Linked DNA regions of Homo sapiens. The protein of the gene in region 1 interacts with the protein of each later gene in a pairwise test. Each region holds a gene or a part of one and is shown on either strand. Other genes may lie near its edges. The genes, in order: PDCD10, PLEKHS1, FRYL and FARSA.

The links.
Region 2: the proteins of PDCD10 (region 1) and PLEKHS1 interact in binary tests that used the Homo sapiens proteins (3 or more experiments, as listed by UniProt).
Region 3: the proteins of PDCD10 (region 1) and FRYL interact in binary tests that used the Homo sapiens proteins (3 or more experiments, as listed by UniProt).
Region 4: the proteins of PDCD10 (region 1) and FARSA interact in binary tests that used the Homo sapiens proteins (3 or more experiments, as listed by UniProt).

Annotation. Positions count from the first base shown.
Region 1 is NC_000003.12:167,696,866-167,703,892, reverse strand, and holds part of PDCD10 (programmed cell death protein 10), read left to right. Parts: intron 1-6,766; coding exon 6,767-6,884; intron 6,885-7,027. UniProt on the Homo sapiens protein: Promotes cell proliferation. Modulates apoptotic pathways. Increases mitogen-activated protein kinase activity and STK26 activity. Important for cell migration, and for normal structure and assembly of the Golgi complex.
Region 2 is NC_000010.11:113,775,662-113,782,688, reverse strand, and holds part of PLEKHS1 (pleckstrin homology domain-containing family S member 1), read right to left. Parts: exon of another isoform or gene 6,925-7,027; coding exon 6,823-6,924; intron 5,566-6,822; coding exon 5,430-5,565; intron 5,280-5,429; coding exon of another isoform or gene 5,049-5,279; exon of another isoform or gene 4,966-5,048; intron 4,697-4,965; exon of another isoform or gene 4,635-4,696; intron 2,088-4,634; coding exon 1,908-2,087; 3' UTR 1-1,907.
Region 3 is NC_000004.12:48,560,276-48,567,302, forward strand, and holds part of FRYL (protein furry homolog-like), read right to left. Parts: coding exon 6,973-7,027; intron 5,417-6,972; coding exon 5,256-5,416; intron 4,769-5,255; coding exon 4,658-4,768; intron 3,828-4,657; coding exon 3,673-3,827; intron 2,714-3,672; coding exon 2,614-2,713; intron 1,362-2,613; coding exon 1,193-1,361; intron 1-1,192. UniProt on the Homo sapiens protein: Plays a key role in maintaining the integrity of polarized cell extensions during morphogenesis, regulates the actin cytoskeleton and plays a key role in patterning sensory neuron dendritic fields by promoting avoidance between homologous dendrites as well as by limiting dendritic branching.
Region 4 is NC_000019.10:12,923,711-12,930,737, forward strand, and holds part of FARSA (phenylalanine--tRNA ligase alpha subunit), read right to left. Parts: coding exon 6,902-7,027; intron 6,837-6,901; exon of another isoform or gene 6,818-6,836; coding exon 6,719-6,817; intron 6,632-6,718; coding exon 6,513-6,631; intron 5,138-6,512; coding exon 5,045-5,137; intron 4,954-5,044; coding exon 4,825-4,953; intron 4,748-4,824; coding exon 4,632-4,747; intron 1,465-4,631; coding exon 1,380-1,464; intron 1,294-1,379; coding exon 1,194-1,293; intron 1,098-1,193; coding exon 929-1,097; intron 817-928; coding exon 739-816; intron 556-738; coding exon 441-555; intron 1-440.

The DNA.
Region 1 (7,027 bases):
TTATAATGATTACATGTTGAAATAATATTTTGGATGTACTATTAAAATAATTTTACCTGTGTCTTTTTACTTTTTTTTAAATGTGGCCGCTTAATATTACATAGGTAGCTCATAGTTGTTGCTGATATTACATTTCTGTTGTACAGCCCTACTCTAGAGACTTACTGTACATGTTGAATGCATTCTTTAATATAAAACTTTTATCTGGTCCTCCATCCCAAATATATATTATGGTGCCCAAAACTTTAATTTTTATTTTTGCATTCCTTCCCATCAGTAGCTCAAATAACCTGTGTTTTAGGTAAAGTATTTTAATGTTTAAATGTGGAATACATTTATATTTTAATTGGAGTTGAAACTATAAGCCCATTCTGCTTGATTTCTTCCATGTCACACAAGTTTATTGATAACACTCTTTTCTGGTAGCACAAGTCATGTCACTAGGTATCTCATATTACTTTAATAATCTACATTACGTATGTTAGAATAGAGCTTTTTTGATTTAATATTCTGTGATTCAAGGTGAGTACATATATATTTAGTAGCTTCATTAAATTGCATCCTGCCAAATCATTGGGTTAATGAAGCAACACCATAATCATTTTCTTTTTTTTTATTGTTGTTTTCTTCTTTGAGTGTCAGTTTGGCTTTGGAATGGCATATTTGGTCATTAGGGAGACATGATGCTATCTTAAGCATCTTTGTGGCCAAAAGAAGAAGGAAAAGTAATCTGTACAGTAGTATTGCTAAGAGAAAAGTCAATATTTCAGCTTTTCTAATGCCAGGAACAGAGAGAAGAAGACCCTGTCCGAAGGAGTAGATAGTATCTTCAATGACATTCATAAAATAAAATAATAAATTTCCTGAGGGTTTTTCTTGTAACATCCTAACATATAAGCTAATTATCTAACACTTAAGTACAATTATGTGACCGTGATAGATGTGGTTTGATCCATGGATAAAGTTTGTTGTCTATGGCATAGATTACTTATTTTGGAAGAAAACAAAGTAACTAATTTTACACTGATGTATTTTTAATTATCACATTTAGTTTGTTACATTTCAAGTGAAATTGAAGGAGGACATGTTAAAAATGTAAAGATGCTTGTATTTTTTAAATTACAACTTTTGAAAAAGATGAAAGAAACCTCACCAGTCATAAAATCTTTTATATTCATAATTCCAATTATTGGTCCGCAACGACAATAATTTTCATCATGGTTTTTGTTATTTGGAGGGAAAAGAGGATTAAAATAGTTTTTCCCAAGATAATACCATTGAATATTTTAATGTATATACAGTTAACCTTTGAACAGTGTGGAGGTTAGAGGTGCTGACCCCCTGCAGAGTTGAAGATTTGAGTATAAGTTTTGACTTCCACAAATCTTAACTACTAAAAGCCTACTGTTGACCAGAACATCTTACTGGTAGCAAAAACAGTTGATTAACATATGTTTTGTGTATCCTATATATTACATACTGTATTCTTAAAGTCACAGAAAAGAAAGTGTTATTAAGAAAATCATAAGAGAAAATATATTTATTATTCATTAAGTTGAAGTGGATCATCATAAGGTCTGCATCCTTGTCGTTTTCACATTGAATACGCTGAGGAGGAGGAAGAAGAGAAGGGGTTGGTCTTGCTAGCTCAGGGATGTCAGAAGTAGAGAAGGTGAATGGGGAGGCAAGAGAGGCAGGCACACTTAGTGTAACTTTACAGAAATATGTTTAATTTCTGACTTATTTGCTTTGTCATTTCTCTAAAAATGTTTCTGTACAGTACCAATCTTCCAACATTTGCTTTAGTTTCAGTGCTTGTATCAGAGAAGGGTCCATGTCATAAAGCAGCCTTGAATAAAGAGAACTCTTCTGCTGGGTTGTCTAATGTCCATTTGTTTTCTGGCACTCCTTTGTCTTCTTCCTCATTGTCCATTAGCTCTTAAATTTCTCTGATATCCATATCTTGAAACCTTTCATCCTCTACGTTTTTTTTAACCATATCTACAATCTCTTTCATGATTTCCGTGGCTCTGTTGTAAATCCTGTGGAGTCATGCACAACATGTGGACACAGTTTTCTCCAGCAGAAATTTATTGTTTTAGGCTCGATGGGTTTTTCTATAACAACAGTAGCATCAGTGGTGTAATTCTTCCAGACTTTCATGGTATTCTTTCTACCAAGGATTGTTGACAGCCATTTCCATAGAGGCCTTATGGTTCCATGTATAATGAGCTTTAAAGGTTCTTGATCCCCTGATGTAGAGGCTGATTTAGAGGTGTGGTGTTTTGGGACAAGTAGGCCACTTTGATGCCTTTCAGTGTTGAACTCATGGGGTTCTGGGAAGCAAGGGACATTATCCAGTATCAGAAGAATTTTTTTGAACAACAATAATAATAAAGGCTAGGTGCGGAGGCCCATGCCTTGTAATCCTAGCACTTTGGGAGGCTGAAGTGTGAGGCCAGAGGCCAGAAGTTCAAGACCAGCCTAGGCAACATAGGAAGACCTTGTCTCTAATTAAATATACAATACATATATATGTGTGTGTATGTATATGTAGATATCTCTGATATCTATATATATATCTGATATCTCAATATATATCTGATATCTGTAGATCTAGCTATATAGAGATATATAGGTATCTCTATAGATATATATAGACAATCAGAAGAACTTCAGAAGACCATCCCTTCCTGCCAAGATGCTTTCTAACCGCAGAAACAACGCATTGATGGTACCAGGCTAGAACAAGGGTTCTCTTTGTCTAGGTCTTCTTGTACAACCACAAGACTGGAAGCTGGTGTTTTTCTTCTCCCTTCAAGGCTTGAGGGTTTAGCAGCATTATAAATAAGGACAGTCCTGATCATAAACCAGACTTCATTTGCACAGAACAGTAGAGTTGTCCTATCTCTTCCTGCCTTAAATTCTGGTGCTCACTTCTCTGCTTTACTAATAAATATTCTTTGTGGCTATTTTTTCCTTCAGAATAGGGCACTTTGATCTGTATTAAAAACCTTTTCAGGCAGATATTTTTTTCCTCAAAGATTTTCTTAATGGTGTGTGGGGACTTATTTGCTGCCTCTTGGTCATCAGAATCTGGGTCTCCTGTTATCTTGACATTTTTTAAGCAAAACCTCTTTCTAAAATTATCAAACTATCCTTGGCTGGCATTAAATTCTTCAGCTTTAGACTTTCCTTTTGCTTTAAGTTGTCATAGAATGACTTTGCTTTTTCTTGAATCATATTAGGGTCTATAGGTATGCCTTTCTTATAGATATCCTGCACCAACATAAAAGCTGCATTTTCAACAGGAGACAAAAAGGTATTTCACAAAACATGCAAGGTTTTTGTACCTGCTGATGTAGCTGCAGCAATGGCTTTGTTTCATGAATTTCCTTTTTTTTTTTTCTTACAGTGAGTCTTAGACTGTATTCAAGCAATTCAGTATCATGCAATACACCTTCTTGTAATGTCATGACTTTGCTTCTTGAGCACACTTCCAACATCACTAGTGGCACTTTGTCGGGTCCCATGGTATTATCCCATGTTTAAAGTATTGCACTAAACACGATGAGAAAAATATGTGAGGGCTGGGAGGTATTACTTTGTACTGGGATGTGCAGTTTGCTGGAGAGATGAACTGTTCACATGGAGTTGATTAGAGTCACATGGCGTTTTAATCATATACTTACTAATACTTGAACTGACTGCAATAGCAACAGGAGGTGGCTTCAAACTTATTACATATACACGTGTACTACAGTTAATTTTGTGCAGTTATGATTTAATATTGCATCTGTATATTTGTTTATATTTCTTTTAACTGCAAATAACACCATGTACAGTCTGTTTGCGTGTGAGTTTTGATAAATTTTAACTTTTTAATAATTTGTATCTATTTTATAGTAAATACTAAAATAGACTAGTGGATAACTATATTTTATGCATTCATAACATGTGTTTTTATTATTTTTTTCACTACTTATAGGCTACTCAGTTTGTCTATAAGTTTTTTCAAATTGTTGCTGATCTCCAAAAATTTTTCCTATATATTTATTGAAAAGTATCTGCATGTAAATGGACCTGAGCAGTTAAAACCAGTTCTTCAAGGGTCAGCTATATTCTACTTGATTCCCTCTCCCCCTTATCCTCTATGAGAGGTTCCGATAGGTTGTCCGTCTTCCAGACTGAGAATCACTGATCCACAAGAGTGTATGTTGCTGCCCTTCGGTTTATTTTTTTCTTACAGCTGGATTCTTTACAAAGATTAGACACCCTACAGGGTTCATGTTGTATTCTGAGGGAAAACCTAAGAGTTGTAGATTGTCTCCCTGATTTAAGACCATATTTATTCATTTTGTCAGTCAGAGCCATTTGGTAAATTCAAGCTTTTGAAATAAGAATTAGCTTAACCAGGTTTTTAGCCAGGAGGTACTGAGACTACTCCTTCCAAACTATGTACTGAGGTACCTGGTGGCCCATAGCAAATTCAGAGGGGTGCCACGAAGTATTTTAAAATTGTGAAGGTGTACAGTGATACTCAACATCTGTTTGACACTGCATGGACTCCTAGCTTGAGATGGATTGCAATTTAGCATATTGGATTGTCCTTCACTGCTTTCATTGGTGTTAGATCATTGAGAAGCTGGACTTTTTGGCCAGTGCTATGATCTAACAGAAGTACCAGAAAAAAATATATCTGCAAGAGGAAATGAGAGGGGCAAGGTCCAATCTAAGACCAATGTTTGAGAAATTATGAAGTGCCCAGTAGGCACACACATCCCAGTAATAAGTGACAATAGTTATTTAAGAACAGAGTAAAAATTGTTTTTTTCAATTTATGTGTATTATTTTTTTAAAGGCTAGGTAGTTAGGACACTATACTTATTAAGTTGTTTAGACCTAAGTATTTAATAAACAGCACTGTGAGGTGTATCTTTTGGCACTAAGGACACTGAAAACTGAGAAAGTTAGGGACCTTTGTGAGACTTTTGTAATGCTCTAGCTTTAGCATTTTGGGGTCCCAGACCAGCTTGGTATTGAAAACTTTATTCTCAGACTTTCAGCATTTTAACCTTTCAGTACTTTATTATAACTTAATCAGAGATATGCTTTTCTTTTTCTGTCCCCTGCAAGCACATAGAGAATGTTCCCCCTCTCCCCAAGATAATTCATTATGTAGGAAGATTTATTGCTAGATAAGATAAAGTATTGTTACTGAATGCTACATTATATGTAATTTTGTGGCAGTTCACCGCATTAATGCTATAACAACACATCTTAAGCCATATTTGGACATCTTATAAAGGAAACTCCTTTTTTAAAAAACACAGTTTTTTTTGTTTTGTTTTGTTTTTAATACGAGGTCTTATTCTGTATCATAGGCTGGAGTGCAGTGGCATGATCATAGCTCGCTGCAGCCACGAACTCCTGGGCTCAAGCAGTCCTCCCATCTCAACCTACCAAGTAGCTGGGACCACAGCCACACCCCACCATGCCTGGCTAAAAAGTAGATTCTTTTTAAAATATATATCCATGGAAGGAAAAGTCAACATAGGCTGTAAAAGAAACAGGATTCAGTCAAACACAGTTTATTGTTATTAATCATCTATCAAAATGATTTTCCTGAATAGTATCTGACAGCATTTAAAATGATCCGAAGATTGGAATAAATGCGTGTATTTTCTTTTCTCATTTCATCCCACAACCCTTCAGTTTTTGATACTTGAGATCTAATGAGAAACAAGATGTTATAATGGAAAGAGCAATAGGAAGAGAAGAAAACTGTATCTGCAGTGATAATCAATGGAATTGAAGAGGCGGAGGTTAAGTGTGCTTGACACATAAGGAAACAAAAAGATTGCCATCTGATTAAGATCGTAAATTGTGTTTCTATTTTGCTGTTTAATATTAGGGCAAAAAGGAAAGAAAATCATCAGCATAATGATTAAAATTGGCAGGCATCCTACAGGAAACAAACATCAAGTGTGATTACAGAATTTACTGGGAAAAACTGAAATCTGAAGATTAACTCTGGCTTTGGTAAACTCAGAACTCTATGCCCAGTCTTGAAATGGCTAGAAAATTTTAGTGTCTTGGGGAGTCTAAGTAACATAGAACCAATGCAAACTCAATGAAACAAGCTCAAAAGGTAGTAAAAGGTTTCATGATGTTCTAGAAACCAGTGAAGGAAATATTCTTGCTACAAAAATAAAATAGGAAATGAAAATCATTGTGTGGGAAAATAGTTAAGGTATTATTATATAGGTTCAGTAAAACCTTCAAAATAAATCCTTTTTTGTTTTTCCTGGCATTCTCTTAATATAAATGGAAAGAATATGCAAAACACTAGTCAGATGAGTTATTGCTTGATCCTTGAGTTGCAGTATTAGCACATTAAAAAAAGCTTAAATTCTCAAGATATTTAAAGTAATGAGAATAGCAATTGATAGATTACTAAAACATATATAATCCTTAATTCTATCTTTGTTATTAGTTCAATTGCAAAAGAGTATAAAGAAGAGTAGAAAATACTAAGTTCTTTCTGTTCAAATGGAAAATGGAACCTTAGTCATAGTAAAGAGTCGGGTGCACAAGCTCTAACAAAGCCTTAGTGAATGCTATCATGACACCTGCTTTACAAAGATTTCTGCCCTTAAAAGTTATCAGTGTAAGACGCTCCCAACAGATTCTAAACAATTAAACTTTGGCTTTAAAATGTTGATTCCTTATCTGTATTTCAAAACTAGTTTTCTCTTTATTATAGGCTGAAAAAGAAAATCCAGGTCTCACACAAGACATCATTATGAAAATTTTAGAGAAAAAAAGCGTGGAAGTTAACTTCACGGAGTCCCTTCTTCGTATGGCAGCTGATGATGTAGAAGGTAACGGACAGAAGAACCTTGTTTAAGTTATACAATTGTTAAATAGCACTTCCTCTAAATCATTATTATTTGACCAAAGGATCTTCCTTCCCTACTGTTTTCCCTCCCTCCCTTTCACTTATGATGATGATGGTGGTGGTGGT
Region 2 (7,027 bases), on another chromosome or scaffold:
CAGACAGAGCAGGCATCTTACACGGCAGGAGCAGGAGGAAGAGAGTGAGCGGAGAGGTGCTGCACACTTTTAAACAACCAGATCTCACGAGAACTTACTATCACGAGAACAGCGCCAAGGGGATGATGCTAACTCCTTCGTGAGAACTCCACCCCCACGACCTCACGATCCAGCTGCCTCCCACCAGGCTCCATCTCCAACACCGGGGACCACAGCTCGACATGGGATTTGTTAGGGACACAGATCCAAACCGTATCAGCATGTAAATGAAAAATTTTTAATACTTTCCGAACAATCTGGGTAACAGGAAATGAAATGTATTTGAATGTCTCTTCTAAGTGCTGAAGGTATTTTCAAATCCAAGTTCAACTATGAGGCTGGCATCTGGACATTTGTTTCCCAGAGCTGGTTTTAGATTCTTGGTTCTGCAACTGAACGGTTATGAAACTTGGAGAAACAAAGAAAATATGCCTTTCATCGCTCCGGGGCTCGATTTTTTCCATGTGAAGCATGGTAAAATACTCTTTCTGAAGCCTGTTTTTGCTCTAACACCCCCCGATTTGATTAGTGCTTTAGCTCTCTGCCTTTGTTTTCCTATTTATATAAAAGAATTTTATTCCTTTGGCCTTCCAGGATCAATTAGTCAATGGATCCATTAGTGAAGAACTTTCAACCTTGAAGTGCTAAGTAGTTCTGTTATTGCTTGTAGAGCAAGCTGATCTTGGCTGCATGTGATGTAAAACTGCTGCGACTTCTAAAATCGTTGCTGAGTCTTTAAGAGAACAAGATACTTATTGAATCCAAAAGGCCACTCTGTCTCAGCACTCTGGCCTGTGGGGTTGAAGAGAGGCAGGTGTTTGGGAAGGGGATGTTTGGGAAGGAGGTGTTGGGGAAGGAGTTGTTGGGGAAGGGGGAAGGAGGTGTTGGGAAGGAGGTGTTGGGGAAGGAGGTGTTGGGGAAGGAGGTGTTTGGGAAAGAGGGGTTTGGGAAGGAGGTGTTGGGAAGGCGGTGTTGGGAAGGAGGTGTCTGGGAAGGAGGTGTTTGGGAAAGAGGTGTTTGGGAAGGAGGTGTTGGGGAAGGAGGTGTTGGGAAGGAGGTGTTTGGGAAGGAGGTGTTTGGGAAGGAGGTGTTGGGAAGGAGGTGTTGGGAAGGATGTTGGGGAAGGAGGGGTTTGGGAAGGAGGTGTTGGGAAGGAGGTGTTGGGGAAGGAGGTGTTGGGGAAGGGGGAAGGAGGTGTTGGGAAGGAGGTGTTGGGGAAGGAGGTGTTTGGGAAAGAGGGGTTTGGGAAGGAGGTGTTGGGAAGGAGGTGTTGGGAAGGAGGTGTCTGGGAAGGAGGTGTTTGGGAAAGAGGTGTTTGGGAAGGAGGTGTTGGGGAAGGAGGTGTTGGGAAGGAGGTGTTTGGGAAGGAGGTGTTTGGGAAGGAGGTGTTGGGAAGGAGGTGTTGGGAAGGATGTTGGGGAAGGAGGTGTTGGGAAGGAGGTGTTTGGGAAGGAGGTGTCTGGGAAGCCTGATCAGCTATCACATCTCCCTTGGGAATCTTGCCTTCATGCAGTGAGTATTTGCAACTGTATGTCCCTTAACAAAGAAGGAATTGTGTGGACCACATCCTCACAGAACACAGCATGTATTACATGAAGGACTGACCCAATCTGTGTCTGTGGTGTTTGGGACAATAGCTGAGATAATAAGGCCTTCCAATTCCCCCAGGTTCTCCAATCATGCCACATGACCCTCTTAGCATCTCTGATACAATAACCAGAGAGGGGATAGTCATCCCCATTGTTAAGATGCAGATGCAGAAATTCAGAGGGGGGTGCCGACTGTCTCCTATCACATGGCAGCAGCAGGGGGCAGAGCTGGACAGTCCCAGCTCCATCCTGGTTCTGCTGCCATGGGTCTGGGGTGCGTTACTCCCTGGCTCCTTTCTGCTGGCTCTTTTTAATGGCCGGACTCCTCTTGGGAGCTCTGTTCAGTCTAGGCTTATCCAGCTGAGAAGGTGCAGCACTTTGGCATTTTGAGGGACACATACAGGATGCAGCATGGAATGTCTCTGAATTTGGGATCCTGCCGATGGTAAGCTTTAATTTCTAAAACACAAGAAAGAAGAAAGTTAAATGGCTAAAGATTATCTTTAAGATTGTTGCTTCCCAATCTGTCCTCATTCATACCCTTGGGAGCTGGTATTGAAGAAAGTCCTGCAGTGAACTGTAATATCTGGGCCAGAAATAGACAGGGATGACTTACTTGGCTAGTTAGGTGGAAGGTGGATTTTTATTTTCTGGCATCCATGGCCTGAAAAGGAAGCTGAGCTTTTAAGGAAGGATCCAGGTAGCATTGATGGTGCTCTAAGGGGTCCAATTGCACCAAGAATTAAAAAGGCCTCTTCAAACAAGTGAATCAAAATGAAACCACCAGACAGGACTCCCCCAGACAAGATTGGGAGGAAACTTAAACTTGATCAGTTTCTCCTGCAACCTGTCATGTCCTTCCCCTGCACACACCTTCTCCCCTTCCCTTGAAAATCTCAGTTCTCTCCCCTCCCAATCCCTGCCCCATCCCCACCCCAACCTCCACTTCCCTCATCTGTAGCATAACAGGAAGGAGAGTAAATGGGATTGGCTCAGGCACTTTAAAACATCAAGGGCCAATGGCTGTTCTTCCTTTGGTTCCATATCTCCCTTTTCCAATATTCTTTTTCCTTCCAGGGACTATGTGTTTGAATTTTAAAAGAGCAGTGGATACCCATCAACACAAAGAAATCAGGAATGGAGGCAGTGGGAAAGTAAGGGAATTTTCTATCTTCCAGATAATCATGAAGATGAATACTGCATATTTCTCAATAGCATGTAGGGGCTGTTATCAATTAGAAAGGGAAGGCAGAACGAGCACAAGAGAAATGCAATGACTCCACAGTCTAGAAAGGCAGTCAGGATAAACTGCAGTCAGCAACACCCAGGTACAGTTCCTGGATCTGCTCACAGGCAAAAACCCTTTTCTTGGCTTCTGAATTAATGCCTGGATCTTTGGGTCAGAGTAGTGTTTGGTAACTTTCAGAAGAGTTCAGAAGCTTATATTGACCACTTGGCCCCAGTGTATGTGGATCCTTTTTTTTTTTTTTTGAGACAGAGTCTCACACTGTTCCCAGGGCTGGAGTGCAATGGTGCAATCTCGGCTCACTGCAACCTCCGCTTCCTGGGTTCAAGCTATTCTCCTGCCTCAGCCTCCCCAGTAGCTGGGATAACAGGCACCCGCCACCATGCCCAGCTAATTTTTTGTATTTTTCATACAGACGGGGTTTCACTATATTGGCCAGGCTGGTCTCGAATTCCTGACCTCATGATCTGCCCACCTCCGCCTCCCAAAGTGCTGGGGTTACAGGTGTGAGCCACCACACCCAGCCCAGTGTGGATCTTTGGCAGAGAAAATGTACTATAGTTACCAGATTGTTGGACTAGGGCCCTGAAATCTACTTCTTTTCCACCATGCAGTCTCCTATCCAGTCTTCAAAACCTAAGCCAAACACCACTTTCTTTGAGACACCTTCCTGGCCTCCTTCATGTAGATTTACTCCATTCTACCTCTGTGATCCTATGGCCCTGTGTTCATATCTCAGGGCACACACTGTATAGCAAGTAGCACATAACATGCCTGCTTCATCCACTAATCTGTGAGCTTCAGCTCAGGCTGAGGCCATTTTTGTAGCTCTTGAATTTAGCACAGTATACAGCACCCAGCAGATGCTCAATAAATAGTGAATGGGCCGGGCGCAGTGGCTCTCGCCTGTAATCCCAGCACTTTGGGAGGCCGAGGCGGGCGGATCACGAGGTCAGGAGATTGAGACCACGGTGAAACCCTGTTTCTACTAAAAATACAAAAAATTAGCTGGGCGTAGTGGCCGGCGCCTGTAGTCCCAGCTACTCAGGAGGCTGAGGCAGGAGAATGGTGTGAACCCGGCAGGCGGAGCTTGCAGTGAGCCGAGTTTGCGCCACTGCACTCCAGCCTGGGCGAAAGAGCGAGACTCCGTCTCAAAAAAAAAAAAAAAAAAGAAAGTGAACGAATGTGTACTTGCCCTGCCACTAACTAGTTATATATCTTAGACAACTCATTCACTTATCCTCACTGGAATTACTCATTTAGGGTAATGAGTAATAGGGATGGCACAATTTGTGTGACCAATGGGATTATTACGTAGTGCAGAAGAGATAAGATGTGTTCTTAATATAGATATGCTACACAATCACAAAATTCCTAGAGCTGGAAGAAATTTGGAAATCATCTAATACAATGGTTTTCAGAAATTTGAAGCCAAAGAACTGTTTTTTAAGGAAAGCTAACAGGAAAGTCCAATATTTTGGACTAATCTTTTTTTCATAAAAGATAAAAGATAAATGTAAGCTTCTCCAGTTGAAGACCCAGCATACTCTCTCCTTCCTCTCCTCTCCTTTCACCTCCATCCTGGGGATGCAAGAAGCACAGTTTGAAAACCAGCCTCTCACTTTAGTGAGAATAAGCTGAAGCCCAGAGAAGGCAGTGAATTTCCTAAGGTCACAGGGCTAGTTAGAAAGAAAAGTAGACCAGGGAAGGAATTAACACATGAAGACTGCAGTGATATGCAGGACAATAGCTAGTCCTTGAAAAAACAACATACTTAGTGCATACCCATATAATATTAGGGGTGGTCTGTTGTTGTTTTTCTTTTGAGACAGGGTCTCGCTCTGTCTTCCAGGCTGGAGTGCAGTGGTGCAATCATAGCACACTGTAACCTTGAATTCCTGGGCTCAATTGATTCTCCTGCCTTGGCCTTCCGAAGTGCTGGGATTACAGGTGTAAGCCACCGTGCCCAGCACCACATATTATGTTTAATTCTTGCAATATTCTATGAGGAAGTTAGGGCTGTGACGATTTCTGAGATAATGAAACTGAGGCTTTAAAAAATGGGCTTGAATAACATTCCATGGTCAGTTGTAGTAGAAGTAAAAGTAACTAGTAGCTTTATTGAGCACCTAATATGTGCCAGTCACCTTTGTAAGCACGTTACACATATTACCTCATTTAATTATCCAACAACCAGCACCATCATTAGTCATAATTTTACAGAAAAGAAAACTGAGGCACAAATTGGTTGAAGGAGCTGTTTTGGAATCCCTGCACCAGTCTGATTCCATGCAAGCTCTTTTTGCTACATCATGCCGATCTGAGGTCCTGAACCCAGGTGCTCTGTCTCTTAGCTCAGTGCCTTCTCCAAATGCTACTTGATATGAAAGAATCCTGAAAGAGTCCTGAAAGCACATTCTGTTATTTGCACTTGATGGTGGAAGAATGAGGAACCTTATTTGTATTCAGGGTACTTCTCAGACTCCATCTAAGACCCTGATCTTTTTCCTTCTGGTACTGATTTGCCCTGTTCAGGGCTGGTCAGTACGACTCACCTCCTTCTGGATGGACCGGGTAAGAAACAGGGAGACCTCCTCCAGGCTCTGGGGTTTCAGGTCATTCACTGCCAGAAGATGATCTCCGTGGCAAAATATGCATCCCAAACGTGGGGGGCCTTCCCACTGAGACACACTGCAGTGGGAATACAACATCCAATACCAGTGTGAGGCTCAGCTGGCCAGGAGGGCAGGGCACGCAGGGTCTCCTGATTCTAGGTCACGTGGCACCACCTCTGAAGTAGACTATCTCCTTCTGTTTAGAATATTGTTTCCTCTGTCACTACAATAGGAGCCTAACCCTTCCTCCAAAGCCCAGCTCAAATTATACCACCCTTACAAAGGCCCATGAAATCCTACATCCCATTCCTCTGCTATAATTCATCTCCCCTACCCCTGGACTTCTATTACATTGTGTGAGTACCTGATTTGTTACATTTTTAAATAAAATGCATTTTACATTTACTTGTTTTTGTGGCTGTCTTTTTCTTACCAGGTTACATGACCCCAGAAGTATGATGTCACCTTTTTGTTTGTTTTGTTTTTTAATTTTTAAAACCCCATGGTTCCAAGTAAAGAAAGAGTGCTCAGCGTTTGTTGGAAGTGAGGGTGTAATGATTATACAATGAATATATAATGAACAAATAAATGAATTAAGGAATGTAGCAGCTCAGTTATGGAGGAGTCCACAGTTTCAGTCAAGTGTGTATTGAGCCTTAGATTGTGGACTATTTAAAAAAATGGAAGGTGTGTTTCCTCCCTTCTTAGAACTTATAAGACAATTAATGTGTAGTGTTTACATTAAAGAGTTTTCTTCCCTTATGAAGATGAAATCTTCCATCAAAATAAATTACAAAGTGTTTTAAAAAAATGCCATATCAAATAGACAGTGATTGCTTTAAGAAAATTCTCTGCCACACAGTCTTTTGTGTCTGTGTCTGTGACTAGCAGTTTTTGTTTTTTGTTTTTTTTTAACCTTGTGTCTGGAAGTCTTAGAAGCTGATGTGCTTTCTTCTTTTAGGCCTCTGATTCTTGTTGACTTCACTAATTTCACTCATTCATCAAATACTCATTGTACAGTGATTGGAAATGATGTCCTTGGGCCACCTGTATCCCAGCCCCTTCTTCCTCCCTTAGAGGAGTCAGAAATGGCTGCTTCCTGAACTTTTGGGTCCTGTTATTCCCCCTGCTCACCTCCAGGCTGACTTTTCTGCACAACAAGACCCTGATTTCTGCCTCAAAGATTTTTTTGTAACAACAGCCAGTCAACAGTCCAAGCTCCCCCGCCCCAAACCTAGTCAGTGTTGCCAAATACACTGTTTCAAGATGTAATTGTTCTCTTCAAAGCTTCCAGCCCCATTTATAATCCACAACAGTCAAATCTCCAACCTACCATATCCGTCCTGTGGCTTCTGTGAGAGCAAGATAGTTGATGACATCAGGAGGAGAAAGGAAAACGTTCAGTTTCTCCACTTGGCTTTCATCGGGGATATTACTATGAACAAGACATTTGTAAAAGTCACATCAGGCAACTGACCTTGGCTCTCAACTGTACTTTCTGAGTAGACTTTTGGCCTCTATTTCTGAGATGACATTGT
Region 3 (7,027 bases), on another chromosome or scaffold:
TGTTTGTCTTGCCTTAGAAACAGTGAAAGTGAAAATGTAGGTTAGCTATGGAATTTGTCAGGTTGAGAGGCTGTTTTGGTTTAGAATGAACTATCTTAAGCAAAGGAGTTAAAATTAGCTGATGCTAAGGACAAGAGTGTCTGAAGAGAGAACTGAAGGAAGAATGACAAGGTGGTGGGGGTGTGGGCATGGTGGACACCTGTACCAGCACACATCCTAGGCGATGACATGACATTCTAAACAGTTACATGATCTCTTGAGACCCAGCTGGACTCCTCTACTTTCTGTGCAAAAGCCTCTAGCAGCAGCTCAGCAGCCACAAAATCTGTGTTCACGGCGGCCGCTATTTTGTGTTGATGATCACTCATATTCATCTTGGAAGGGCTGTCACGGATGCGGGGGTTGGGAAAAAGGAAGAGGCATTGCTACCAACTACCAGGGCAAACCAAACAGGTCAACTGCTTTCAAGAACTAAATGTTATGAGAATTTAAGTTGTTGTTATTGCTTTTTTCTCCCACTCAGGTCAATTAGGGATGGGAAATAAACTATTTCTATTGCTAAAATAGGTGCTGTGCAAAGATCCCAAGCCAGCTAAGTCCACTATCTCTTGAGCCCAAATGAAATAAAGGACCCACAGCAGAACTCTGCAATCTCCCAGATCCCAGTGTTGGAGCATGGCCAGTACTTACACTGGAACAAGATCTTGATGTAGGCGACAAGCAACATGTGGGAGACTAGAAAGAGTTTTGCTCGAGGCACTGTACCACCTGCTCCTATGGTTAGGGGTTTCGCTCACGGAAAACTGCCTATAACTTTATCCCTGCCTATTTTTATTATTAAACATATGCCAATACACAAAATACAATGTATTCAAGAAGTCCTATGTCTACTAAGAAATACTTTTAAGTCACATGTGAAAAGTCGTCCCTCTTGTATTTTTTTCTTTTTGATGGAGTAGGGAGCGAAGGGAAGGTCAGGTATAAAACCCTATAAGGACGCCGTTGATAGAAAAACCTAAATATTGTGACTGATCAGAATTAAGAGTTCTTATTGAAGAAAAAAATATTTCCTATGTAAAGACATGTCTGGTTTTGATTTAACCTGTAATTTAATAAATTTATAATTTTCTAAAAATTGTTTCTGAAGAAATGATTGACAAATAGAAACTACTAACCAGTTCATTGATCATACCTGAGAATATGGCGAGAGTTAGCTCAGGATACGCCCTTGCTAGTTCCTCGGACAACTGATAATATGAAACAGAATAGAGATGTGGTAGAGGAGACAGCTGGCTGAGTACTCCATCTGTTCTCTGAACCTCCAATTTGTGAGCATAGCGAAACATCTTCGGTTCCAGAATCTATAGGAATGTGATTCCATCAACTTAGGTTAAGATTTTATGGGTTCTCTAAAGTTTAACTATAATTTTATAATTTTTAAAAAAACTCTTCTCCCCAGCTGAGTGGAGTGGCTTATGCCTGTAATCTCAATACTTTGGAAGGCAGAGGTGGGAGGATCACTTGAGGCCAGGAGTTCCAGACTAGCCTGGCCAACATAGCAGGACCTCATCTCTACAAAAAAATTAAAAAATTAGCCAGATGTGGTGGTGTGTGCCTGTGGTCCCAGCTACTCAGGAGGCTGAGGGTGGAGGGTCACTTGAGCTCAGGAGGTAGAGGCAGCAGTGAGCCATGACTGTGCCACTGTACTCTAGCCTGGGTGACAGAGTGAGACCCTATCTCAAAAACAAAATGAAACAAAACAAACAAAAACTCTTTCTCACTAAAAGAATTTACATTCCTCGTATTTAATGCCAATGATCCAGGTTAGTAACACAGTCTGAAAATAACTCCAGCAACTTAATATACGATTACTTGAAAAAGATTTACCACTTTTCTCGCACAAAAATATGGTAGTACAATATATGCATAAGTGAAAAAAAAAAACCCTTCAAGGAGGACCTTTCGACATTACACTATTTAAAGAGCTGTACTGCTGAACTTTCCTCTTAATTAACAAAGGCATTAGGGTATAATTCCTAAGATGGATCTACTGGCATCAGAACCACTTCAGAGCCTTTGGAAAAAGCACCTACTTGAATCCTATTCTTAGCCCTTGGTTAAGATGGAAGAATCTTGCCCTATTATGAATTAGTTAAGTATTGCATACTAACAATATATCCGTGTTTGGTAAGTTAACTTTCTAAGTTATTTCTCCTCAACCTAATAAAGAAAATTTACATGAGAATATGATAAAAAGAGCTAATTATTTTTCACATGGCTCTCCAAAAAAATTTGGACACACATTGTTCTCATCTGCTGAACAGAAATACTTACATGGACACATATTTATAAGTACCTTCATACACATACACACACATTATCATAAATAATCCTTCTACAATACACTTAGGAATAGTCTGCATTACTTATAAATTTAAATATCTATATTATCTTTGTCTTATACTTCTAATAATAATTAGGCCTTGATACCATAACTTCTTTACTATAAATAAAGCTAAATACTATTATCAGTATGCTTTAATAGCAAGACTAAATTATTGGGCTTCATTAAATCCTGAGTAAAAAAATATTTAAATTCACATGTTTACAAACCTGTAAAAGTTGCATAGCAACTTCATAGATACTTCTAGAAGAATCAGCTGCTTTAAACAGTATCAGATTTAGAAGCATCACTGTGTCACATTGATAATCCCTAGGAATAAATTTTACATATTAAGTAAATAACAATGTTTAGAGGCTTTTGCACCATTTAATAAATATGATATGCAAAGGGCAAGGCTTATAGGCATCTATCTTCTAAGCCTATGAGGAGACTTGGTTTTTTCAAGGCAATAGGTACAACAACAGATGCATGGTGATAATTGTCCTTATTTTGGTTAAATTCCATTAGAGCACACGTGTTCAACCTTTTGGCTTCCCTGGGCCATATCAGAAGAATTGTCTTGTGTCACACATAAAATACACTAAAAACAGCTGATGAACTAAAAAAAAAAAAAAAATCCATGCATAATTTTTGTAATATCCACCACCACAGATAAGCAAAAAGGTCCTCACATTCAAAGGGTTAGACACGGCTGCATTTGAGCTTAAGAAAAGAAAATACAGTCAACCCTCTGTGGATCAAAAATATGAGGGAAAGGCCAAGCGCGGCAGGTCATGCCTGAAATCCCAGCACTTTGGGAAGCCAAAGTGAGAGGCCAGGAGTTCAAGACCATCCTGGGCAACATACGTAGTGAGACCTCGTCGCTACAAAGAATTTAAAAATTAGCCAGGCATGGTAGTGGGAGCCTACAGTCCTGGCTACTCGGGAGGTTGAGGTGGGAGGATCACTTGAGCCTAGGAGTTTGAGGTTACAGTGAACTATGATCATGCCACTGCACTCTAGCCTGGGTGACAGCGAGACCATGTCTAAAAAAAAAAAAAAAGGAGTATACGGGAGGATTTGCATAGAGTAAATACAAATACTACAGCATTTTATATAGAAGGCTAGAGCATCCATGGATTTTGGGATCTGAGAGGGGTCCTGGAACCAATCCCCCACAGATACTGAAGGACAACTAAACTGGTGTCTTCCTATTTTTGAATTCAAAAGAAAAACTTTTCTTTAAGAAAACAGAACAAAATGAAACAAAAAACCTGTATCTAAAGTACCTGTTCTGGAAAACATTAGCAATGGCTTTAAAGCAGCCGGCCGCCACCCTCCCGGAGCCCGTGTAGCAGCGGTCCACAGCCCAGTACATCAGGTTGCTCTGATCAGGGTTCAGCTCCAGTAACAACGTAACTGCTTCACAGCCCAGCTGGTGAACCTAGGTAAAGGTTGTGAAATTGCCCGAGAGAGAACGTTATATATTTTTTGTCTATTTCCCTATAGTTCTTACTAAAGTAATATAGTGCATATATTCATTGTAATTAATAGAAAAATTCCATCTCCTTTTGTTCACCTCCCTCTCATTTTATTCAGCCAGCAGAAAAAACCACACAGATGAACTGAATTTGGCCTCTCGCTTTTTACGCGAGCCTCTCTAGTATGATTTTGTCTTCCAACAGAGCCCTGAAGGCAGTTAATGAATATGAATAGTGATTAGGTGCTTTCAGAAAAATGAGTCATTAACCTCTCCAATTATTTTTATCAAGCTTTATTCTTGTTTTTGATAACCCAATAGAAAAACTGTTCTGAGGGGAAAAAATGTAAGTCCTATTTTAAATTGTGAAGTCTGTATATGTACAATATGAGAGTAAGGAAGGCAGAGTGTGGAGGGCAAGGAGGAATGATTAAATGGAAAGTGGTTAAAAAAACGAAATGAAACATAGCAAATAACATATTTTTCCCATGCAGCTCAATATGTTCTATGCTGGTATTTTATTTATTGACTTAGAACCCTGTTGAGAGACACATACCACTGTATTAATCCTATAATATAAAAAGGGAAATGAAAATTATTCAAATTAATGATACATAAGAATTGGAACGTTTTTACATTATGGGATCCTATTTAACTTTATATAATATGCTTTTTGCATATGATCCTAACCTATCTTATTTTTTTAAAAGACTTGTTTTTAGTGCAACATACATTAACTGCAAATAATACAATGACAACTTATTATGAACCTTTAAGGAAATTGTCATAATTACCTTTTTGTCCAGAGAATCCAAAATGTTATCCAACCATTTGTACAAATAGCCATCTGATGAAAGTCCTACATTATCTGCAACAGGGCCACAACACAGTACAGCAGACATAGCCTTCAAATAATAATATTAGAATTACATTTAACAAATTTAAGAGGTTAAATGTTGGTTGCTTAATGAGAAGAGGCAAAATACTTATCTAGTCACAATACTTTAATCTTTTTTCTTTACAAATTATTTTTTAAAACTGAGAAATTTATTATGAGTAAGTAAATATGATACCAAATTAGACATGGAGTTTGAACAGTACTGGAAGGGAAGATAAAAAGACCAAGAAAAAGTAATTAAGTAAGGGAAAAAAGGCATTTCTTTCAAGTAATCCTAAGTTCTTTAAGATAATGGTGATCAAATTTGAGTAGATTCTGGAACTGTTTTTCATTGTATTTTATGTATTTAAATATAACTTATGGTATAAGTTTTGAATATGGCAGAAAAACATTTTAATACTCTCAGATCCTCTTTTTAATACTAGTGACTGAGAGACTTAAAAATACTTAACTCTGCTCTTAAGAAAAAAGAAATCAGGTTTCTAAGTAAATACCTTTAACGCACAGTATTGATGTCTATTAATTTGCATATTTCTATCACTGTATCTGTCCAAGGGCGTAAACATGATGCTAAAAGGACCTGCCCAGTGACTGAACAGCATAAATAGACTGTGACGAAGGCTCTGTTGAGGAAAAATACTTCTTCTCTGGTGCACTGTGAATAAAAAAAGATAGAAAACATTTATTTCCATTTCTTTTTGCTTTAACTTTTATACCAACATGTTATTGAATGTGTAATAGTGTAAAAAAGAAAGCAGAAGTTTTCATTTTAAACTATCAAAAACCTCCGCGGTAGCAGGGATCATTTATATATATGCAAATCACAGAAACAAAGTTGCAGTCTGTGTCACCCTGTCCCAGCATTACATGACATAGAGCATCTCTGCAAGCAGAAATTCCATGGCAGGCTCAATGGCACATGAAGGCTGGCACAGAGGTGGGGCCAGGAGTCCATTTCTCCCTGGGCTATCACTGGCTATATGGTAAGATTGGCCAAGATTTTAACACAGACACACCTCTGTATCTTGGTTCACTGGTAAGTAAGGGCTTTGGACGAGATACGTGTTTTCAAACTTTCTATTTTTTTTTTTCAGCAGGAAAGCTGCCTTTTCCTGCTAAAGGAAGCTTACATGTAATCTCAGTATATAAAACAGATAAAAGGGCAGTTCAGGCCTAGTGTCCAAACACATTCTGCTGCTTTCTGCGGATGGCATCAGAGAACCTCAGGGCTTTGAGAAACACCAAAGTTTGAAAACCACTGGTTTAAATGATCTCCAAGGATTTTTTTCCCCCATTTTGAAATTCTACTATATAATTTCTCTACATCTATCCTTCTTGAAGAAACTCAGCAGTATCACAATAAACCAATGTGGAAGTTGTAAAAAAGTGTTTAGTAATAGACTAAACCACATCTTTATATTAGTGAGCTTCAGATCAGAAAATTTCGAAAAAAATATGCTCTTTTCCTTTGACAGTGTCATTTTCCTTTCAAAGATGAAAACAAGGCTCCTACAGTTGAAATTGACATATGTAATTAAGTGCTTAATGACCCTGTTATAAAATACAACCCATGTTCTTTAGGTATCCACTGTCTGTATATACTATTCAAAATAACAATGTGACTTTAATTTTTCAAAGAGAAAAAGAAACACTTATAGTGTATGCCAAAGGCTAGTCACATTACTTCTTACAGTTGTAAATAATTTAACTTTTAAAAATGTAATTGTGTATATTAATCTTCCTAGTATCTAAACCAGTATCTGTCGATATAGACCCTACTCAATAATTGGAACATATCTGGTAAATCAGTAACACGGTATCCTTGTTACATTTTGTATTTATGGCCTATACTCTTTTCCCATTATTCAAAAGTATCTTCTTAATTTTATTCTCAATTATCATGAGACACTGCACTCTGCTTATTGCATCTAAAACAAGGCTATCCTAAAGAGCTTATTCTATTGATTTCTCCAGGTTTTTGTGTCAGTATCCTGATTATTACTGAAATTCTATGCTGGGTTGCTTTTTTATTTCTAATCAGTGACAATAATTCAAAGGGAAAACAAACTCCAGCCATCCAGGTTATGCTGACATATTTTTCCAGTATGTTCATACGTTACTTTATCAACTTAGATTATTAAACCTCAAGGAAAGAAAAAATATGACGGTTCCTTAATACTCAATAATGCTTTAAGAAACTGAAAATAATACCTGGAACATTCTGAATAATATTCGCCACTAAGGCACTAAAATGGCATCGTATATC
Region 4 (7,027 bases), on another chromosome or scaffold:
CTCAGGTGATGCACCTGCTTCAGCCACCCACAGTGCTTGGATTACAGGCATGTGCCACCACGCCTGGCCTGTTTTTATTCTTTGTAGAGGCGGAGACTTGCTCTATTGCCCAGGCTGATCTCAAACTCCTGGCTCAGGCGATCCTCCTGCCTTGGCCTCCCACAGCACTGGGATGACAGGCATGAGCTACCACGCCTGGCCTGATGTACTTGTTGGTCTTGCTAGTTATCATCCTTCTCGCTCCACTGGGACCCCAGATTCAGAGGGAGGGACATAAGCTGTCATGTTCACAGCACGGGGCTGAGCATTCAGTTTGTACTCACGATGAAAGTTTTGTCCATTGGATGAATGAATGGGTGGTGCTGAAACCACGCAGGCCCCTATACCTGGAGAGTTATTTGAGGCAGCTGGACACCCCGAGTTTCCACTTGGGCACTTACCGCTCCAGGGAGAGGCCCCAGGCAATGACCGACACGTTCTCGGGAAGCCCCATGGGCAGCAGCATCTCTGGACGGAAGACCCCCGAGTTTCCGACCTCCACCCACTTCTTCAGGCCTGCAGAGGCAGGACAGAAAAGACGGGCAGTGCGTGTTGAGTTTCTGGGCACTGCTGGTACAGGTTCTGGGTCTAGGTGGTGAGCTTGGGAGGTGGGGTACAGGCATGGCAATGGGGGGACCCAGGCCAAACCATAGTAGCCTGAGACCTCCCTCCCACCCCAGTACCAGGGCCTACCCTGACCTTGGTGGTAGCTGAACACCTCCATGCTGGGCTCTGTGTATGGGTTGTAGGCTGGCTTGAAGCGGAGTTGCGTGATACCTGCAGGAAGTGGGGGGCGGGCAGGAGAGCAGGGGTTTGGAGGATAATGCTGGTGATCAACACACCTGCCCGCTGCCTCACCACCATGGCCCACCCCTGCCCCCCTGCTCACCCAGCTTGGTGAAGAACTCCCGCAGAACGCCCATGAGGTGGCCCAAGGTGAGACCATGATCCGCCACCACGCCCTCGATCTGGTGGAACTCAGCCAGGTGCGTGGCGTCCAGGGTCTCATTCCGGAATACGCGGTCGATGGAGAAGTACTTGACCGGAGTGAAGGGCTTCTAGGGGTGACAACCGAGCCAGGCCCAGGTATGGGTCAGAAGGTCCCTTTGACAGCACCCTCTCCCCACTGGGGCCCCCGCCTGGGCCAACCGCACCTTCTGGGCAAGGCGGTAGAGCGCACGGGCGCTGGCTGATGTGGTGTGGGTTCGCAGTAGGTTTTTCCGGGCCTCGTCCAGCTTCCAGTTATACTTGTACCTTCAGGAGGGAAGGTGGGAAGTCCATGCAATGGCCCAGGGGTCCCCAGCCTCCTTCCCTTCCATACCAGGTAAGTCCTGCCTCACCCCTGTGAGCCGTAGCCGCCCTGAGAGTGGGTCCGCTTGACCCGCTGGACATAGTCCATTGGGAGCTGCAGGGCCTCCGCTGGATCTGGGCAGGACAGAGCAACATCAGGTCAGTCAACGAGCATTTCCCACCCCTTTTTTTTTTTCAGACAGGGTCTCACTGTTGTCCAGGCTGGAGTGCGGTGGTGCAATCTGGGCTTACTGCAACCTCTGCCTCCCAGGTTCAAGTGATTCTCGTGCCTCAGTTTTCTCATTTGTGTGTGGCTTTTTTGGGTTCTTTTTTTTTGAGACAGAGTCTTGTTCAGTTGGCCCAGCTGAAGTACAATGGCTCAATCTTGGCTCACTGCAACCTCCACCTCCCAAGTTCAAGCAATTCTCCTGATTCAGCCTCCCAAGTAGCTGGGATTACAGGTGCCTGCCACCACACCCGGGAAATTTTTGTATTTTTAGTAGAGATGGGGTTTCGCCATGTTGGTCAGGGTGGTCTCGAACTCCTGATCTCAGGTGATCCACCCACCTCGGCCTCCCAGTGTTGGGATTACAGGCATGAGCCACTGCACCTGGGCTTTATTTATGTATGTACGTATGTATGTATGTATTTTGAGATGGAGTCTTGCTCTGTTGCCCAGGCTGGAGTGCAGTGGCATGATCTTGGCTCACTGCAACCTCCTCCTCCCAGGTTCAAGCAATTCTCCTGCCTCAGCCTCCCAAGTAGCTGGGATTACAGAAGTGCACCACCACACACAGCTAATTTTTTATATTTGGTAGACGTGGGGTTTCACCATGTTGGCCAGGCTGGTCTCGAACTCCTGACTTCAAGTGATCCGCCTGCCTGGGCCTCCCAAAGTGCTGGGATCATGCCACCGCGCCCGACCTTTTTATTTTTTCTTTTTTTTTGAGACGGAGTCTCGCTCTGTCGCCCAGGCTGGAGTGCAGTGGCGCGATCTCGGCTCACTGCAACCTCTGCCTCCCAGGTTCGAGTGATTCTCCTGCCTCAGCCTCCTGAATAGATGGGACTACAGGCACACGCCACCATGCCCAGCTAATTTTTGTATTTTTAGTAGAGATGGGATTTCACCATGTTGGCCAGGATGGTCTCGATCCACCCACCGTGGCCTCCCAAAGTGCTGGAATTACAGGCGTGAGCCACCGCGCCCGGCCTATTTTTTTTTTTTAAAGGGACAAAATTTTTTTTTTTTTTAGACGGAGTCTCGCTCAGTCACCCAGGCTGGAGTGCAGTGGCATGATCTCGGCTAACTGCCAGCTCCGCCTCCAGGGTTCACACCATTCTCCTGCCTCAGCCTCCCGAGTAGCTGGGACTACAGGCGCCCGCCACTATGCCTGGCTAATTGTTTTTGTATTTTTGGTAGAGACGGGGTTTCACTGTGTTATCCAGGATGGTCTTGATCTCCTGACCTCGCGATCCGCCCGTCTCAGCCTCCCAAAGTGCTGGGATTACAGGCGTGAGCCACCGCGCCCGGCCTAAAGAGACAAAGTCTTGCTCTGTTGCTTGGCCTGCAGTGCAGTGATGCAATCATAGCTCACTGCAGCCTCAAACTCCCAGGCTCAAGCAATCCTTCACCTCAGCCTCCCGAGTAGCTGCAACTACAGGCGTGCACTACTATGCCCAGCTAATTTTATTTGTACAGATGGGTCTTTCTATGTTGCTTAGGCTGTTCTCAAACTCCTGGGCTCAAGCGATCCTCCTCCCTTGCCCTCCCAAACAGTGGGATTATACCCACTGAGGCTGGCCAAGTTTCCTTCTTTGTAAAAAGGGGTAACAGTACTGCTTCCAGTAGTTGGCAGGAAGATTAGAATAGTGGCTAGTATGTGATGAGTGCTTAGTAAGTTTTGGGTGCTATGACAATAATGACAAGAATGATGTTGCTCCTCTGGCCAGGTAAGCCGGCACCCAATGACCTCAACTGCCCTCTTGGTCAGGAAGGCCACCCCATTGTGGGAAGTCATTCCATTTCAGACAGTGCTAAGGGCAATGAAAGAAAGAAATGGGACAGAAGAATGAACACTAGGGGAGAAGGGCTTCTGTAGAACTCGGGGTGAGCCCGGGAGTGTTAGGCTGGCCTGTCTCTGGTGACACGTGAGCAGAGATTTGAGGCTGCAGCCTGCCTTGAAGATCTGGGAGAAAACAGCTCTTGGCTAAAGACGGAACATAAGCAAAGGCCCTGAGGTGTGCACGGCCTGGAATGCCCAAAGAAGACATGGGGGCAGGCAGGGTGTGGGGGCTCATGCCTGTAATCCCAGCACTTTGGGAGGCTGAGGCAAAACTGTTTGAGATCAGGAGTTTGAGACCAGCCTGGGCAACATAGTGAGAACAAAACAAAACAAAAATTCATTAATTTTGGGCTAGGCGTGGTGCTCACGCCTGTAATCCTAGCACTTTGGGAGGCTGAGGCGGGAGTATCACTTGAGGTCAGGAGTTCCAGACCAGCCTGGCCAACATGGCAAACCCCATCTCTATTAAAAACACAAAAATTAGCCGAGCGTGGTGGCGGGTGCCTGTAATCCCAGCTACTCAGGAGGCTGAGGCAGGAGAATCGCTTGAACCCAGGAGGTGGAAATTGCAGTGAGCTGAGATCGTGCCACTGCACTCTAGCTTGGGCGACAGAATGAGACTGTCTCAAAAAAAAAAAAAAAAAAAAAAAAAAGCCAGGTGCGGTGGCTCACGCCTGTAATCCCAGCACTTTGGGAGGCCGAGGCAGACTGGAGTTTGAGACCACCCTGGCCAACATGGCAAAACTCCATCTCTACTAAAAATACAAAAATTAGCTGGGCATGGTGGTATGCACCTGTAATCCCAGCTACTCGGGAGGCTGAGGCAGGAGAATCGCTTGAACCTGGGAGGCAAAGTTTGCAGCGAGCCAAGATCATGCCACTGCACACTCCAGCTTGGGCGACAGAGTGAGACCCTGTCTCAAAAAAAAAAAAAAAAAAAAAAAAGACTGCAGGTGGCATAATGAGAACAGAGCTTGACACATCCAACAAGGATGGACTTTAATTTAACTCAATTAATTTTTTTAGAGGTAGATTCTTCCCTATGTTGCCTGAGCTGGATTTGAACTCCTGGGCTCATGCAATCCTCCTGCCTTGGCCTCCCAAATAGCCGGACTACAGGTGCACACCACCATGCCCAGTTCTAGACCTAATTTGATCAAATGGGATGCCCATCCTGTAAAGGCTCCGCCGTGGCCTGGTGTCTCTCATGTCTCAGGGAGGCCCTAGGGGCTGACCCACCTCGAAGGAAGAAGGTGTCGTGCTGGTCACGGGCTGGGTGCTGCTGGGGCTGGAAGAGGGCGTCAAAGTTCCAGAAGGAGCTCTCAATGAAGTTATCAGTCGGCATCTCGGTGAACCTGGTGGGAGACACAGCCTGACTGCCCTGCCTGTACCCAGCAGAAGCACCAGGCACCGCCCCCAGCCCTGTGCTCACCCCATCTCCAGGAAGATCTGTCGGAACTGGGAGCGGACCTTGAGCAGCGGGTGAAGGTGGCCGCTGTCGGGGAGGACACCGTGGGCCAAGAAGTTGTAGGGCTTGAAGGGCCGGTCCCGCCAAGAGCCACTGGGGGAGGATGCAAGGGCCTGGTAAGGGCTGCCCGCCCCTGCCCCCTGCCCCAGCTCCCACCTGCCCTGACCCTGGGGTTGCCTGCTACCTGGAGATCATCTCTGGGCTCAGCTCTGTCTCTTGCTTGGAGATGCTGGTACTAAAGGCACTGCCTTTGCTCACCCAGTAGGTCTTCAGAGTCCTGTGGCCAGGGGAAGGAAGGGGACGCCACTGCCATCTCCTCCTAGAGGACTTCCTTGATCTCCCGTCTGATGAGGATCCCCATGCTACCTACCAAGTCACTCTGCTTTATTTCCATCCTGACATTTATCACTACCTGAAATCCTCCTATGTGACCATGCTGTATCTCCCTGTATTCACTCACTGATTCATTCAACACTTACTGAGAACCTAATGTGTGCCAGGGTCTGTTCAAGGTGCTAAGTACACGACTGAGTGATGATACTAGGGAAAGTCTAGCAGATTTATTCTGTGCCAGGCTCTGTTCTGCAAAAGTCTCCCCACAAGCCCCGGAAAGAGGGCAGTTTTTTTTATTTGTTTGTTTGTTTTCCTTTTTTGAGACAGAGTTTTGCTCTTGTTGCCTAGGCTAGAGTGCAATGGCACGGTCTCAGCTCACTGCATCCTCCACCTCCCAGATTCAAGCGATTCTCCTGCCTCAGCCTCCAGAGTAGCTGGGATTACAGGCACCCGCCACCACACCCGGCTAAGTTTTGTATTTTCAGTAAAGACGAGGTTTCACCATGTTGGCCAGGCTGGTCTCGAACTCCTGACCTCAGGTGATTTGCCCGCCTCGGCCTCCCAAAGTGCTGGGATTACAGGCATGAGCCATCGTGCCTGGCCCCTTTTTCTTTGAGATGGGGGTCTCTCTATGTTGCCCAGGCTGGCCTTGAATTCATGGATTCAAGTGATCCTAACACTTCAGCCTCCTGAGTAGCTGGGATTACACACGTGAGCCACACACTTGGCCCAGGCTATTTTATAGATAAGGAAACGGAGACCAGCAAAGGCCAGGTGACTTGGCCAAGGTCATAAAACTAGTTAAGTGACAGAGCCCGAACTTCAGTTAGGCATCCCAGCTCTAGTCTCTTCTCTCTGCCACTCTGTGTCTGCTCAAAGGGGACATTTGTCCTGTGAGAGGACGGCCCCTAGCCCATCTAGGTTCCAGAGGCCTGTCTGGTGTGTGTTCATTAAACTTTGGACCACACTAAGGACAGTGAAAGAAATGAACAAGCACCAAAGATGAAGACTAGGGGCGATGGGCTTCATGGAACTCAAGGGGAGAGGAGGGCTGTCAGGGTGGCCTCTTTAAGGGGACACAGGAGAGAGACTTGATGAGGAGCCTATCTTGAAGATCAGAGGGAAAACAGTTCTCAGCAGAAGGGTCCTCATGGGCAAAGACCCCAAGGCACGTAGGCTTGACAACTATGGCATTAAGCGAGCTGGGAGGAAACTGGCCACACCTGTGCTTGGTGTGGGCAAGATGTCTCCCTCCCACCATGCCTCCACCATGCTTCGCAGGTGGTGGGGGCCTGAGCCTGCAGGGGGCACCCACTCACACTTCAGCCAACAGCTTCCTCTTCCTCAGCTCGCTCCTCTCCTTCTCCCCCAGCTTCTCAGCCTGTCCCCCCCGGACCAGCTGGAGCCGCCGCTGCACCTCATCCTCCATGCTGTCCACCTGCCAGGATAAGGAGTGTGAGGGGTATGAGGGCCAGGGGCCCATGTGCCCGTCCACCTGCCCCCTGACCAGCCCGCAGGAACGCACCACTCGGAACACCCGGGGCCCGTCAGCCGCACTCTTGTCCACCCGAATCCACTTGTTGGACATGGCCTTGCTGAAGCCCACTTTGCCACTGGGCAGTCGCTGGAAAAGAGAGGCTGCAGTGAGTGGGGCACGAGGGCCACCTTCATCCCATCACTCACTCCCCATTCACCCCGCAGCTCCTACCATAAGCTCGCTCTGGGCCAGGCCCTCTGGGGGAATGCTTCGAAACACACGGGCCTCATGGCTGCCCTCCCGGGCAATCTCCTCGCCCTCCGCAGTAAGCTCCCAGTGCTTGGTGGACCGAAGTTC